Regions from separate parts of the Homo sapiens genome. Here region 2 is linked to region 1. A link means that fine-mapping ties the variant in region 1 to the expression of a gene that starts in the linked region. Tissue or cell type: transverse colon. Region 1 holds a variant in brackets; the other region holds the start of a gene. All regions are shown on one strand. Distances are between the middles of the regions.

What was found. PIP is the estimated chance that this variant, and not a neighbour inherited with it, causes the effect.
Region 2: FHIP1B starts here. The variant in region 1 is the best candidate, but not a certain one, in a credible set for the expression of FHIP1B in transverse colon (GTEx, PIP 0.79).

Annotation. Positions count from the first base shown.
Region 1 is chr11:6,205,939-6,213,364 of GRCh38, reverse strand. C11orf42 (chromosome 11 open reading frame 42) reads right to left here. Exons shown (of 3, transcript NM_173525.3): 2 at 2,717-3,515; 3 at 2,230-2,453. The coding sequence ends at 2,323. It overlaps FHIP1B (FHF complex subunit HOOK interacting protein 1B), which reads left to right. Exons shown (of 12, transcript NM_001098794.2): 12 at 1,498-2,020. The coding sequence ends at 1,859. Among named protein-coding and RNA genes, the nearest start is that of C11orf42, 4.1 kb to the right of the region's middle. The variant G/A (reference allele first, on the strand shown) is at 1,942.
Region 2 is chr11:6,229,799-6,237,734 of GRCh38, reverse strand. FHIP1B (FHF complex subunit HOOK interacting protein 1B) reads left to right here and starts at 3,099. Exons shown (of 12, transcript NM_001098794.2): 1 at 3,099-3,191. It also overlaps a transcript of CNGA4 not described here. RefSeq lists enhancers at 2,685-2,764, 2,162-2,852 and silencers at 2,895-3,194, 3,375-3,424.

The DNA.
Region 1 (7,426 bases):
ATGTGCCAATGTAGTTGTGAAGTGTAGAGGAGTAAGGGATTTCACATCATTCATTATTTACTAATCGAAGTAGAAGGCAAAATGATATGCTGAAAGCAGAGATGGAGGCTTAATGAGAAAAGTGTATGGGTTGGGAAGAGAGTACCATAAAAGTTACTGCACAGCTGTGAAGTCTCAGGTAAAGTTCTTTTGCATGGTTTCTTCATGGTCTAGTATTGTGAATATTTCTTCCTTCTACAGTTCTGGTGCTGGGGTCACTTTAGAGGGGCCAGGTAGACAAGGTAGACAAGACACAGTCTAGGCCCTTAAGTTCACAGGTTAGTGTATGAGGTAGAAGACATAGAAATAAATTAAGTATGTTGAGTTAAGGGAAGTAAAATTGGGAGTCAGTGGAAGACAAATCAGAGGAGGCTTCCTAGAGAAGTGGGGATAGTAAAATTTCACGTAGAATGATGAAAAAAGTGGAGAAAAGAAAATTTAGGCAGAGGGAGCTACAGGCGCATGAAAAGTGCCTGAAGGGTTCCAAGATGATAGATGTGGATGCAAAAGCAAGGTGGGGTGTGGAGAGTTTGAAAAGAAATTGTAGGAGGAGTGTGAGCCTGATTGTGAAGGGCTCTGAATGCCAAATTTAATAGCTCGGTATGGTATTTCTGTAGCCAGTATTAGATGTAGGAAATGGGAATTGTTATTATGATCTAGGCCTTTATAGTAGATATGGATCCAGACCCAGAAATCTAGGCAGAATGTTAGAGGCAAGAGGACGTTGTTTTGAATGGCTCACTTGAGCCTAAGCTGACTTGAAATTGGCCGCAACCAGTGGGAGAGAGGCTTTGGTGCAGGACAGGGACTGGTGAATGGTGAAGTGGTGAATGGTGAAGAGCATATTTTGGAGGGACAGTAGAGCATGACAGAAGTGAAATTGTCACTGAACTATAATTGCATATATAGCCCCTGTGGATATTGTAGGAGCAGAGGATGTGGGTTGGGTGTTATAGATAGGCTGGGGAAGAGGGAAGTGGTTGACTAGTTCGGAAGGGTGATGGGAAGCATGAAATCAGGGCATGCTATAGACAGAGGAGAAATAGCTTGGTGGTGGTAGATTAGTGATTGGAAATAGGAGAATTCGTCAGGGTGAGAGGGCATGGAGAAGGAATGGATCTTAACTGGGAATGAAGTGGCTAAAGTGTTGATTGATTAAGACTGAGAAGGATGGTTGGCTGGGTGGGGAGGCTGGATAGAGGGAAAAAGGCTGGGCAGGCAGTATTTTTGGTGTTGGAGTGAGAAAGAACTCCTCACTCTACTCCTCAGAGTCAACTTCAGGGATGGGACAGGAAATGGTACCTGAGGTTCATTTCTGGTCCATTTTGTCCTTTTTTCCATTTCCTCAGAACCCTAAAGGAGAAGTCCAAGAACCTAGGGGGTGGGGGAATCTCCCCTCTCAGTCCAAGGGAGGTTCCCTGATCCCAGCACCTTCATGATACCCCTGTTTATTCCCAGTGAAGAGCCGGAGGCCATCCTTGGGGGAGTTACTCCTGCGGCATGCACACAGTCCAACCAGGGCCCGGCAGGCGGCACAATTGGTCCTTCAGCCTGGGCGAGACGGAGCAGGACTTGGCCTAAGTGGGGGCTCCCCTGGGGCTTCAACTCCAGTTCTACTCACCCGGGGCGGGGCCCCTGAACGCCAAGGTGAGGCTCTTCGAGTCAAGAATGCTGTCTACTGTGCAGTCATTTTCCCTGAATTTCTCAAGGAGTTGGCTGCCATCTCCCAGGCTCATGCCGTCACCTCGCCTTTCTTGTTGGAGACTTCAGAGGAAGGATCTGGCCCTCTCATCTCAGGCTGTGGGCCCCTCAATCCTTAACTTTCTTCCATGGACAATCAGGGCCATGGGTGGCCCGGGCTGGGGCTAGGGCACAGGCTCCTTTTTATGTTTGGAGGCAGTG[G/A]CAAAAGGACTTTTTAATTTATTTCAGATGAATGTTTTATGGAGAACTTGTTGCAATATGTATAAAAGGGAAATCTCTATTCTGTGCTCATTTTTCTTTCCCATTTTTTTCTGTGGGGCTGGGGCCCCAGAAAAGGTTGTACATAGTCGGGGAGGTGGTCAGAAGTATTTTCTCTTTGGTAAGGACATTGCTGCCAAGGTTTCAAGGTACCCCTTATGCCCTTAGAGGGTGAAGGGACTCTTCCCTCTTCTCTGGATCCCAGAAGGAATAAGCAGCATGGGCCCAGGATGGTTTGGGGGAGCAGCAGCTGATGTTTATTAGAGACCAGTACCCCTATGCCAGATCTTGGGGGCTTTGCCCCCGGAATCTTTTGCTTCAGCTTCAGTCGTCACTGTCGAACTCTGAGGATAGACCCTGCAGCAGGGGCAGGGACATGGAGTGCCCGTCGGGGTCCCTGGGGCCCCCACCCTGGGCTCCTGGTGGAGGGCTGCGGGGGCTGAAGAGCCAGTTCTCTGCCAGGGTTGGGGATAGTCACAGCTTGACTCATGGCTGGTCTTTTCCCCCCCTAGCTTTTCCCTCTGGTCCTCTGTGCCATCCCAATCCCCTTCCTAGGGCCTCCTCATTCCATCTCACCCTCCCCAGTCTCCCTCATTCCATCTCTTTCACCAGAGCCCTGTGCTGAGTAATGGATTCCTCACATACTTAATTCTCATGCCTTCTCCCTCCTTCACTTTGTCCCTCCCATCCATCTCATCATCATTTCCCCTAGTAGTACCTGACAGTATCTGGGGCCCCCTCCAGAAGGGGTTTCGGCCCTTGTAGGAGAATCTGGTGGGTTTGTCCTCTGGCCCTTCCTGGGGAGGTGGCGTAGGTGGGGCTGGGACAGGTGGGGGCACATCAGCAGCTTCAGTTGTATCAGCAGGTGCTGATGTGGGGGCCAGAGGCGGCATGATGCTGAGGTTGGGTCTGACCCAGTTGGCCCCATGGGGCAATGGGTCTTTAGTGAGAGGCTTCTGTGGTCCCAGCACGCCCTTAGACTGCAGTGAAAACTTGAGGCAGGAGAAGGCAACAGGTAATGACCGAAGTAGCCGGAGGAGCTGGGGCTCACGGGCTGTAGACGTCAGCCCCAGCTGCAGCCAGGAACAAGAGAAGACCTGGTAGATGACATAGATGCTGTGGGTGCTTCGGAGCCAGGGAAGAGTCTGCTGTAGGCTCACCTGCCCTGGTGGCAGCAACAGGAAGGCAACCTTCTTGCGCAGGTCACCCATATGTAGGCGGATCTTGCAGGGCTGTCCATCCAACATTCGCGTCTCTTCATAGGCTCTCTCTGCTCGGCCATTTGGTGAGTATTCCCGAGTGCAGTGGGCGAAGGCACCCTCAGATCCTGCCTGCTCCAGGAGGCTTGGTAGTGGCCCCACTGGTTTCAGTGCCCTCCGGCCCTGCCGACCTGGCAAAGCCAGGCGGGTATGGGCTGGGCGGGACTGTTTTACCAGCACACCCAGTAGGTCATAGCAGGCTGCATCTGACAGGAAAGGTACTGCTACTGCATTGGGCCCAAAGTGCTCCTCGATGACCTGCAGGTGGCCAGTTTATAGGTCAGGGACTTAGGGTCAGAAGTTAACTGGTTGCCTACTTTAAATTGACCCCCAGGTTCACGTTCAGTTACATCTCTATAATGTGTTCAGATTTATGCTTTCTGCTTACCTCCCAGCTCTCCGGCAGCAAAACCTTGAATGTTTACGTGTCAAACTATCTAAGTACTGGGAAAACATAAAAGAATGAGACTTTGTCTTTGTCCTAATATAGTTTAGTCTACTGGAGAACACAAAAATGTAAACAGTCTGCTATGTAAAATATTAATAGAGAGCAAGGTGTGAAGGAGACAGGAAGTGATTGAACAGTCTTTACCTTTCATGGAAAGAGGATCAAGGAAGGTTTCTAGATGGTGATACTTGAGTTTTGAAGCAATTATCTAGGTAGGAGAATGGTCAATTCAGGCATAAGAGTCGGTGAAAAAACTTGAATTTACAAATCAAGGGGGGCACATTTAGGAACACATAATTTTATATTGCTGGTATGTATGGTATGAGGAGGGAAAGGCACACAGGAACTAGATTATGAAAGGCTTGTGTGTATGTCAAGTGAATTTTGTCCTGAAGGCAGTGGGAAGCCGCCTGAAGGCCTCTGGGTAGGAGGAACAGGATCAGATAGGTGTTTCTGAAAGCTAATTTTTTTTTTTTTTTTTTTTTTGAGTCGGTTCTCCTTCGTCGCCTAGGCTGGAGTACAGTGGTGCGATCTCGGCTCACTGAAACCTCTGCCTCCTGGGTTCAAGTGATTGTCCTGGCTCAGCCTCCCAAGTAGCTGGAACTACAGGCACCCACCACCACACCTGGTTAGTTTTTTGTATTTTTAGTAGAGATGGGGTTTCACTCTGTTGCCCAGGCTGGTTTTGAACTCCTGAGCTCAGGCAGTCCGCCTGCCTCAGCCTCCCAAAGTGTTGAGATTACAGATGTGAGCCACCGCGCCTGGCCAGAAAGCTAATTTTTAATAGGAAGTCATAAAATAAGAGTATTGCAATACTCCAGGCAAGGCATAATAAGGTCCTGAACTAAAATAGTGAGGGAAGATATTAGAGATATTTAGGTTATAGAATTAGTAGAACTTAGTCACTCAGGAGGTAGGGAAAAAAGAATCCTCGGCTGTGCACCCTGGCTCATGCCTATAATCCCAGCACTTTGGGAGGCCGAGACAGGTGGATCACCTGAGGTCAGGAGTTGGAGACCATCCTGACCAACATGGTGAAACCCTGTCTCTACTAAAAATAGAAAAATTAGCTGGGTGTGGTGGCACACGCCTGTAATCCCAGCTACTCATGATACTGAGGCAGGAGAATTGCTTGAACCTGGGAAGCGGAGGTTGCAGTGAGCCGAGATGGCACCACTGCACTCCACAGAGTCTCAAGAAAAAGAGAAAAGAATCTTTAAGGATTCTTCTTAGGTGACTGGTTACATGGGTGATGTCTTTAATCAATAGTAGGTTACGCAGAAATAGATTTGGAATGTCCATTCTTATACCATATCTCTTACCTCATAGTATATGCCTTCTACCCTAGCTGCAAGGGGTAGTTCTTGTAGGGAATTTGAGGCCTCATCTTTATAATGTTAGTTACGGTATACTTTCAGGGATTTTAGTTAATCGTGTGTGTGTGTGTGTGGTTTGTTTGTTTGTTTGTTTGTTTGTTTCATCATGGCCTTTTTGGGGTTGGTAACCCTGGAAAGTTTATTTCATGACTAATTGGGAAACCTATAAGAGCCTCTCTAGTAATTGTACTTAAGTATGGTTTCAACCCATTCAGGATTTTGTGGCTGATGTTTCTGGTTCTCTGCTCTACTAGGGAGCAAGGGCACACAGAATTTCCTCTTTGGGCATCTCTTATATTTGAGCCCAGTGCTTACAGTGCTGTACTCTACTCCCTACCTCCAGGACCAAATTTCGCACATCTATGCCCCTACTGATGGCATTGCCCTCTTTGTTGGCCTTCTGGTAGAATTCACCAGTGGCTCCTTAAGGCTGATCTGCTTTTTCTACAAAGCTGTTTTGGAAGTACTGCCTCCTAGCATAAGAGGAAGGTAGCTAACTATGGAGTTGCATCTGCACCTTGGATAAGCTGAGGTAGCTTGTAGACTACTGTCTTGTCACCTGGCTGAAGGAATAACTGATGTTCTTTTGTGGTCTGCATGGGACAGTTTCCCATCATTCCTTCTCCTTTGCTTCACTGGAAAACACTTCCTTTTGGGTGGGGCTCTGAGAAGGACCAGTTGCGTTTCCAGGGAGAGAGCAGAACACTGGTGGGTTGACATTTTTGGATGCAATGCTTTGCCCCATGACCATGAAATCAGAGGCACCAAGCATGACATCAGAATCTCACACTAACTGCTCCTTTGGTGTCAAGGATCCTACACAAATAAGACAAATGGGAGTGTCTCTAGAAGAGGCCCCTCTGATAGGAGTGTGACATTTAATATATCTGGTGCTTATTATCCAAGTTTCTGCTAAAAGGGTGAATCTCTGGTTTAGCTGGAGGCTCTTTATTCCCCATACGCTCTTCCTATATGCTGACAGGCATTAAGTTGTCTAATTCTAACCCTCCTTAACCTTGACAGCCACAGTGGTTATCCTAAAATAGGAAAAATAAGGAGCTCGGTTCTTTGTTAGGGAGACTGTGTTCTTGGTAGAATCACTATTTAAGACTACTATGTGCTCCTACTGAACTTCTGCTTCTTCATAGAAATTATATGGACCTTAGGCCCACAAATTTAGGTTTTCCAGGGGCATCCCAGGAAAGTGATGGTGGAATATTGTTTTCCTAGATGTCTCTTGGTTGCTTCAAATTCTGAATGTGGAGCTCTTGAGCCACATTCTGTTTAGCCAAATGTTTTTACCATATGTTCAGTAAACTGTCCGTGGTTTTGGACACAGGAAACCAGGTCACTTAAAGGTGACCTAATCCTTGAATTTGCCCCGTAATGCCAGTGATTTATCCTGCATATCTCTACCCCGATTTTCCTGACAATTTTCAATTTAAATAGGATAGTGAGTTTTTCTGATACTCAGAGATGGCATAGCTTTCTAATAGTGGGAGACTGTTTATTTTCAATCTAATTCTGCTTGATCTAGTCCAGGACCAACCTTCTACACTGCTGAAACCAGTTGCTCTAATACTTGGGAAGACCTTGAGCTCTCCAGTTTTTGCTTCCCTGGGAAGCTGGCCTTTGTGGTAAGCAGCTACCCTATTTGGAATGGAAGCAGCATGCCATTAAATCTTCTTTGAGTGTGGTAGGCACTGCTTTAAGATTTTTTTTTTTTTTAAGCCTGGTAGGCTGACTTCTATGAATGTTTTAAATTCACCTTCCTTCAAATCACATAGAATCTGATTCTAAATTCTCTGATCTGAAATTTCCAGTCTGCAGCTGAAAAGTGATTTGGTAGGATTTGTTGGATATCTGCAACCCAGATACAGCTGAGATTGTCCTGCTCCTTAAAATATACAAATTTGCCTCAAAATCCAAATTTCTTATTTTGTGGAAGTTAAGGTGGAGGAGATCTGTGAAAGAGTTTCAGATAAAGTTCAGATTCTATAGGAAGCTGGTTCTATAGGAAGTCCTGGTTCTAAGACTAGCCCCTATATCTCTTTGGCTTTATTTTTACCACTGCTTCTTTGAACTCTGCTCTAGAAGATTATTAGGAGTTCTCAAATATGAGTTGTTCTTTTTCCTCTCCTTGTTTTTACAAATACTCTACATTTAATTACTATTAAATTACTATACACTCACCACCCTCCCATGCTCATTAATTCAGGTATTTATTAAGCACTTTTTGTCAGGTTCTCCTCTCCCTCTTTGTGTGAATAACTCCTGCTTGCCTAGCTAGAATGTCACTCTTTCCAGGAAGCCTTCCTGATCTCCTGTCTCACCCCTGACTTAGC
Region 2 (7,936 bases), 24 kb before region 1:
CTTCTTAATTTCTTTTTGCAAAGTATTACGCTTGTTAAAATAAAAAGACAACATTCAAAGTAATGCAACAAAATGAATAAAATCCTTTGTAATGCCATAATGTCTTGGTTTGCTGTTTCTTTTTAGTGTCTTTCATAAGCTCCTCTGTCTATTCCTTCTATGATGGTGTTTTTTTTTTTTCTTGGATTCTGTTCTAGGCTTTCTACTTTTGCCATCCTCCTAACTCTGTCTGATTGACGTCAGTCACCCACAGGACTTCCTTTCTCATATAGTGGCTCCCGAGAACTCTCCCTGAGTTTCAGTTATCTATATGACTAACTGCTCACTGGATGTTCCTACTTGGGTATCCCGCGGTCACCTTCAACCCATTGGGTCTATAACTAAGCTCATTATCTTCCTCCACTTTTTCTTCTAGAATTCCTATCTATGCCCTTTCAGCAAAAAAACCTATGACAAGCATTTATTACTATTTACTGTATAATGTTGTGGCAGTTAAAAAAAATGGTCACAAATTCTTCGACACCACTCCCTTGTGATAGTTTGTATAGCAGGAGTGATGTTGTGTGACTTCTAAGGCTAGATCATAAAAGGCCATGCAGCTTCCCTCTGGTTCTCTTGGAATGCGTGTTGTCTGGTAGCTCCCTCTCAGAATGTTCCCTCTTGGAACCTACCCATCACATTGTGAGAAGTTCTGTTTGACAGTTTGCCCAATGAGTTCAGCTTTTTCATTATCCCAGCCCAGGAATTAGATGTGTGACTGAAGAAGCCTCCAGATGCTTCCAGCCACCAGCCTCAAACCACCTCTAGATGTTCAAGCTTTACAAATAAGGCCCCAGACATCATGGAATAGAGACAAGCCATTCCTGTTGCATCTCGTCCAAATTCCCAGAATTTGTGCACATAATAAAATGGCTATTGTTTTTATGACACTAAGTTTGGGTTGGTTTGTCACATAGCATAGTAACCAGAACAAACAAACACAGAGAAAGGTGTACAATCCTTAAGTATATAGCTTAATACATTTTCACAAAGTGAACACACCCATATAACCAAGCACTCAGATCAAGAAACAGAACATCACCAGTGCCTCAGGAGCCCCACTCTGCCCCTTTCAGTCAATGTTTTTCCAAGAATAATCACTATCCTGAATTCTAATATCACAGTTTAGTTTTACCTGTTTTTGAATTTATATAAACTAAGCATTAGTTTTTAATTCTTCCTCTTATTTTCCTCTTATATCCACCCAATCATCAAACCATGGTGATCTACCTTCTAAAAATCCACATGTCCACTTCTCTGCATTTTTGCTACTCTAGTTTGGGCCTTATCAGCTTGTTTGGTCTTTTGCAAAGTTACTGTATAACTATCAATCTATGTATAAAATTCTTTATAGCTATCATCCCAAAAATAAAATCTAAATTCCTTAACATGGTTTATAAAGTTCTCCAGTCCATGTCTTCAGCCTCATCTCACAATGTTTCCTCACATGTTCCCTAGGCTCCCGACACACTGTACTGATTGCAGTTCTTACAGCACCTCCCACATGCTGTCCATTCTTCCTTTCCCTGGTATATGCTGATCCTTTGGTCTGAAACTTCTATTTCTTTTTAAATACTTTTTATTTGAACTAATTTTAGGCTTACAGAAAAGTTGCAAAAATAATACAGAGTTCTCATAAATTCCTTATCCATCTTCCCCTAACGTTATGATCTTACATAACTATAGCACAATGATAAAAACCAGGTATTTAACATTGGCAAAATACTTTTCTTTTTTTCTTTTCTTTTTTTTTTTTTGAGACGGAGTCTCGCCCTGTCGCCCAGGCTGGAATGCAGTGGTGCGATCTCGGCTAACTGCAACCTCCGCCTCCCGGGTTCAAGCGATTCTCCTGCCCCAGCCTCCCAAGCAGCTGGGATTACAGGCGCGCGCCACTACGCCCAGTTAATTTTTGTATTTGTAGTAGGGACGGGGTTTCACTATGTTGGTCAGGCTGGTCTCGAACTCTTGACCTCGTGATCCGCCCGCCTCGGCCTCTCAAAGTGCTGGGATTACAGGCGTGAGCCACCGCGCCCAGCCGGTAAAGTACTTTTAAAACTACATGCCTTATCTGAAACTTCTATTTTTCTATTTTAGTTTATCTTACTCTTGCTTGTTTCCCAAGACTCGGCTTAGACACCGTCACCTCCCGGAAGTCTTCCCTAAGCTCCTTCACCGTACCTTCCTCTCATCCTCTATACATGCAAATCATGCTAAGTGCTGCTCCTAGGTGGCCCCCGTAGTAATGTACTTATTACACTACGCTGCAATTCTCTGAGGTCCTGGAGAGCAGAGGCCGGTTCTAATTGATCCGGAATCCAGCTGGGCATGCAGGCACTTATTCCGTGTTCCTTGACTAAGTGCTCAAGGGGTGACGGAGCAGCACAGCACAGCGGTGTTGGGGGAGCCAGGGGCAGTCACCGCTGGGGTACTAAAGTAGAGACCAAGCTATGCACGACGATGGAGCAAAATGAACTAGAGTGCCCGCAGTCAGCCCTCTCTAGGGCTCCACTTTTCCGCAGGCCCGGCCCACCTACTGATTCCTCCTCTCTTTTCGTGATAGCCTCGCCCCTCCACACCCACTCTTCCACTCCAAGCGTCTCCTGGAATCCATGGCCCCACCCCTTTCTCGCTCGTCTTTCTTCCGGCTCCATCTCTCCCAAGCCCCGCCCTTCTGATCTTTCCCTGCCTGTAAAAATCGCCTCTCCTTAGGTCCCGCCTTCTGCCCTCTGGTTCCACCTTTCCTTCCCGGGCTCCGCCTCCGCCCTGCCGGCCTCCACCTTCCCAGAGGCCTTCGCCTATGACACGCCGGAGTCCTTCTGAGGGGCGGGGTTTACGTACGAAGGGACGGAACCAAGAGGAGAGGCGGTGCTCCTCCCTCGGATAGCCGTCGGCGACCCCGCCCTTGCGTTTAGCCGTTGCCAGGAAACAAGCGTCCTTGCTCGGGTTTGGTCCGGCTCAGCCAATGAGCTGGCACGCCATTGCCCAGTCGTGCGACGCCGGGCGGTTGCGTGTGGTGCGCGGGGGCGCGGGCTGCGTGTGGCGCGGGGCGGGGCGCGGCTGGTGCGCTTGAGAAGCGATGGCGGCGGCCTGAACTCACCTAACACCGCAGCAGCAACCGGGCCCGGCCAGGTTCGGCGTTCCGTGAGTGAACGGTACGCATGGGCCAGAGGGCCTGGAGAGTCGTTTGTGGGGATGAGAGACTGGGAAAAGACGGTGACGGGTTTGGTTACTGTACTGGTTGTGAGGGGTTGGCAGGTGGTGAGGGTCCGGGTGTGAGTGTCTAAGATAGGGAAGGAGGGTGAGAGCTTACAGGTGAGTGGACAAATGAGGGGCTGTGAGAGGCTGGGTGCTTTCGGAGGTGCCAAGTTGAAGGGACTCCTGAACGCGGTTTACTAGGGCTGGGGCTACTGAGGGCTGGTGTGAAGGATACCCTGGGACTAGAGTGAGGGGTAAGGCCTGCGCGAGGAGAGAGAGAGTAAAAGGCGCAGGTGGGAGCCTGCGGGGTGGCGGCAAATTGGTGAGGGAGTTGAAGGCGAGGCATGGGAGGAGGGAATTAGGGCTTGTGAGACTTGGATAAAGGTGAGAGGTTGGTTCTGAGGCCTCCTTCGATGGACTGCCCTGTCCAGTGAGAGCAATAGTTTTAGACAAAGTAGGGCAGCTTAGATGGAAGTGTTGTGCACCTGACTCCTCTGCTCCCATGGACTTTCCATATTCTGGAGGACGAGAAAATGAAGGTGTCATAGGCAATAGTACTATGGTAATGAAAGTCATATTTGAGGCTCAGACTTCAACAGAGTAATCACAGAAACTTCAGTTCCTTCGAGTTCCTTCTCTGGACTGCATAGTTGAAGATGGGCCCTCTCATGAAGGGTTTTGCGCTGTGACAGCTTGTGTTTTCTCTCTACTTGCTTCTGGACAACCTTATTCCACTGTTGCTCCTTACCTGTGCTTAACTGTGGGTCTTTGATTGGATTGACCATATTCAGTTGCTAATTCTACTTTTATGGAGGTCATATGGTTTGCCCTATACAGTACTATATTTAGGATCCCAAACAGGATGGCCTTACTCTCCTTTCTTACAGTTGAATTTTTTAAAAAGCTAGTTTATATTATATTTAAAATGTGTGTTTGATGAGTTTTGACATGTGTACACATCTGTGAAATCATCATCAGTCTCAAGATACTGAACATTTTAGCCACCTGAAAATTTATCTCTTCCTCTCCACACCCTGTAGTTGGGTTCATCTTACTAGCATTCTTTTAGGTCCTCTTCTCCCCACCAACCCAAATGCACGTGAAATTCTGGAAAGTTGGTTTGGCATTCAGTGATAATGGCCACTTTCACACTACTAAATTTTCCTCTCTACTGCTAGTCAGCCATGGGGTTGGGACATCCTATTCTTTCCAGACTCAGAAAGAGTTAAGTCTTTCCTTAACTCTACAGTGGACAGGGAGAGACCATTTCCTGAGAATTAGACAGCCTCAGTCCCCATTCTTTTCCAGAGTCTTAGCTTCAGAGCCAACTCCTATATCCTGTGGTATATTCTCATTGCTTCTTTCTGGAGTCCAGACAGGCCTCCATATTGGTAGAACACTTGGCAACTTGCCCAGTCAGTCAGAACTTACAGTTCAGAGTTTAGAGTAGTGGTTCCTAAACACTGGACCAAGGACCCTGTACATGATAAAATTATCATCTATCCAAGATGGAGGGAGAGAAAGACAGTATGGTTATTCATGAAGATAAATTTATTCTCAGAGATTATCATTCCTATTCTTTTGGTGTTGCAGTGCTCTTTCGTTGATGCAGTAATGGTAACAGTAGATGGTGGGTTAAAAAAAAAAAGATCTAATTTACCCAAATAAAAAGTGTCAACCCAATTTTTAATTTTAAAAATTATTTCTATAGCTTTATGAACTTCAGAAATTTAAAGTGATGATGGTGTGGCTGTTGTATTAGGTTGAGGAAGCATACATTTATACAATGATTCTGTATAACTTAACATCTGAACAGCATTCATGCTTTACATAGGGATTTCAAATTTTATTATACTGATTTATATAGATACCTTGTAGACAAAGACAGGAACTTTCATTTTATAGATGAGAAATTAAATTCAGTAGCCAGAGATCATACAGGGATACAGTGGCAAGGCTGAACCCAGAATTTTGTCTCAGAGTGAGAGAGACTTTGGGAAAGAAGATTTATAATAGACACTGAAGGTGATGTGGGAGGATTTTTTAATGATTTGTAATTGTTCTATTTCCAAAAGACAGAAAAGGGACTGTGAGAGTGACATAGGGATGAAGGTTATGTTTAATGCTGTCGCAGTGACATTGGAACAGGTATATATAATACCTGGATCACATCTTGATAGTGGATCATATCATGATAGTGATAGGATGAATCAAATCAAATATTAGATGGTTCTTAGGGACTGTCTAAATCCTTGTTATAATGGAGAAAGCACTGGATTTGGTAAGCTTATTGTTTGCTATCCCAAACTCTGTTGAAATAGTAGTGCATTAAGTATAATGGATTTTGATTTGTATCATATAGTGAGTGGTAGTTCTGAGAGGATGAAACATACATGAGGATGATGATGTAGAGATAGAAACATGTTTAGGGTACTGTGTTAATCATTTATTCCATATCTGCTCTGTGCCAGGCACTCTACTAAGTGCTAGGAGAATGAATTCGTTTATTCATTCAACAAATACTTCTTCAACATATAGTCTGTGCTTGTGATGCTCACATTTTATGGGATAACAACATGAATAAAACATGGTCATCCGAGCTCTCAAGGGATTTTCAGTCTAGTAGGGAGAGAGAGACACATGAAAACATAATTTCAATTTAGAGAGATAATGTGAAATGTGAAAATATATCATAATAGGCTGGGCGTAGTGGCTCACGCCTAGCATTTTGGGAGGCTGAGGCAGGCAGATCGCTTGACTTCAGGAGTTTGAGACCAACCTGGGCAACATTTTGAAACCCTGCCTCTACCAAAACAACAACAACAACGACAATAAAACCACCACCAAAAAAACCCACCAAAAATTAGCCAGGTGTGGTTGCACATACTTGTGGTCCTGGCTACTCCGGAGGCTGAGGTGGGAGGATTGCTTGAGCCTGGGAGGCAGAGGTTGCAGTGAGATGAGGTCACACCACTGCACTTCAGCCTGGGTGACAGAGGCCCCACCTCAAGAAAAAAAAAAAAAAAAAAAAGAAAATATATCATAATGAGTTGATTACTCCTTTGTATCTAGTGTCATCTTTCCCTGTATTCCAAGTATACATGTTTATTGATCTGTGTATCTCCACAAGTATCTCAAAATTAACATGTCCAAAACAGAATTCATAGTCTTTGCCCCAAAAGCCCGACTTTGCCCTCATATCCCCTATCTCACTCCAGGCAAGGACTACATTGTCATCTTTCATACTTTCTGCTCTTTTACTCCCTGCATTCAATCATTTGCTAGAATCTTAATACATTTCGCTCTGTGTTATCTCTCTTCTCTATATCTCCATTGCTACATCTTCACTGTCAAAGCTTTAGTTTAGCTCCCCCTCACCTCATATGATTTTTTTAAAACAATTTTTTGTCTTAAAACTTGCTATTTTCTGGTCCATCCCTAGAATGATTTTTCTGAAAATACACATCTGATCTCCGAACTCCTTGGCTTAAAAACTTTTGGCTCTTTGTGTCCTGTAGGACAACATCCAAATTTCTTAATATGGCATCATTTAGCTTCAGCTTACCTCTCCAGTCTCGTGTGCCACTCCCTAGTCTGTATTCTAGTTTGAATAAATTGTTCACAGTTCCCTAAAACCATGCTGCTTTTTTGAGCCTTGAAATCTTTGTAATAGCTGCTTCCTCTACTAGGAATGCCTTTTCTTCTCTGCCCAGTGAACTTTCCTTATCCTTTAGGATCTAGTTCAGTTTCACCTCCTTTTTGACATCTCTGTCAAGGTAGAGATAACTGTGTGTGACATGAGGATTCATTGCTGTAAAGAGGAGTCACTGTAGAATAGAGGTTCACTTTTGTGAATTGGATGGACCCCGCTGGAGTCAGATGAGGAGATCCCTGCAAGAAGCAGAAGTGATATTGCGGGGAGGGAAGGGAATGAGTTGGGACCATACCCTGACATCCCATTTGTCTGAGGGATGGAAAAGCAGGGAAGAAATGTGTAAGCTGAGCTCTAGTATAAATTCCTAGTAGGTGGTGTTTTTGGTTGGTTGGTTTTTCCCTTTGTATTTCTATGAGATTTTAATCAGGTCATTCAACTTCCAGTATTTAGGGTAACAGCCCATTCATCCTCCTTATGTCAGTAATTAGTCTTCTTGCCTAGGAAGAGCCACTGTAAGGAGAGAGACACCACAGAATTTTACTGACCTGTTCTTGGAAGATCATTTTGGTCTCTCTGTCCAATGTAGGTGTTGCAGGTATATCCCTTCCCCCAGCTCCCTCCTCTTTGCCTCTCCCAGGGCAAAGGTTCATAAGTGAGGCTGAGCCACTTCCTGCCCTGTATCTGCAGTTCCGAGGTTGGTTGTCACCCTTGCTGTGTGTGGCTGTAAGGCTGTATTTTGGGCTATAAGGTGAGTGCCTGATCTTGGCCATTTTGGGTCTGAGAGATCAGCTCGTTCCCCTTTTTACTCTGTGGCTGAGCCTGAAGGTAAATCTGGAGAGTGGCAGGTTCTGCTTTTTTTTTTTTTTTTTGGACTTTGCTATGGGAGGAAAGGACACCATGAGAGGGTGGTGATTTTAACCTTTTCTTTGTCTTGTTCTGAACATTGCAGAGAGTCTAATTAGGTGATAGGAATACCAAACTATAGCTTTCTTTTATGCTTTTGTTGTATGTGAACAGGGCCCAGTTTAAGTATTGGCTTTTGGAATC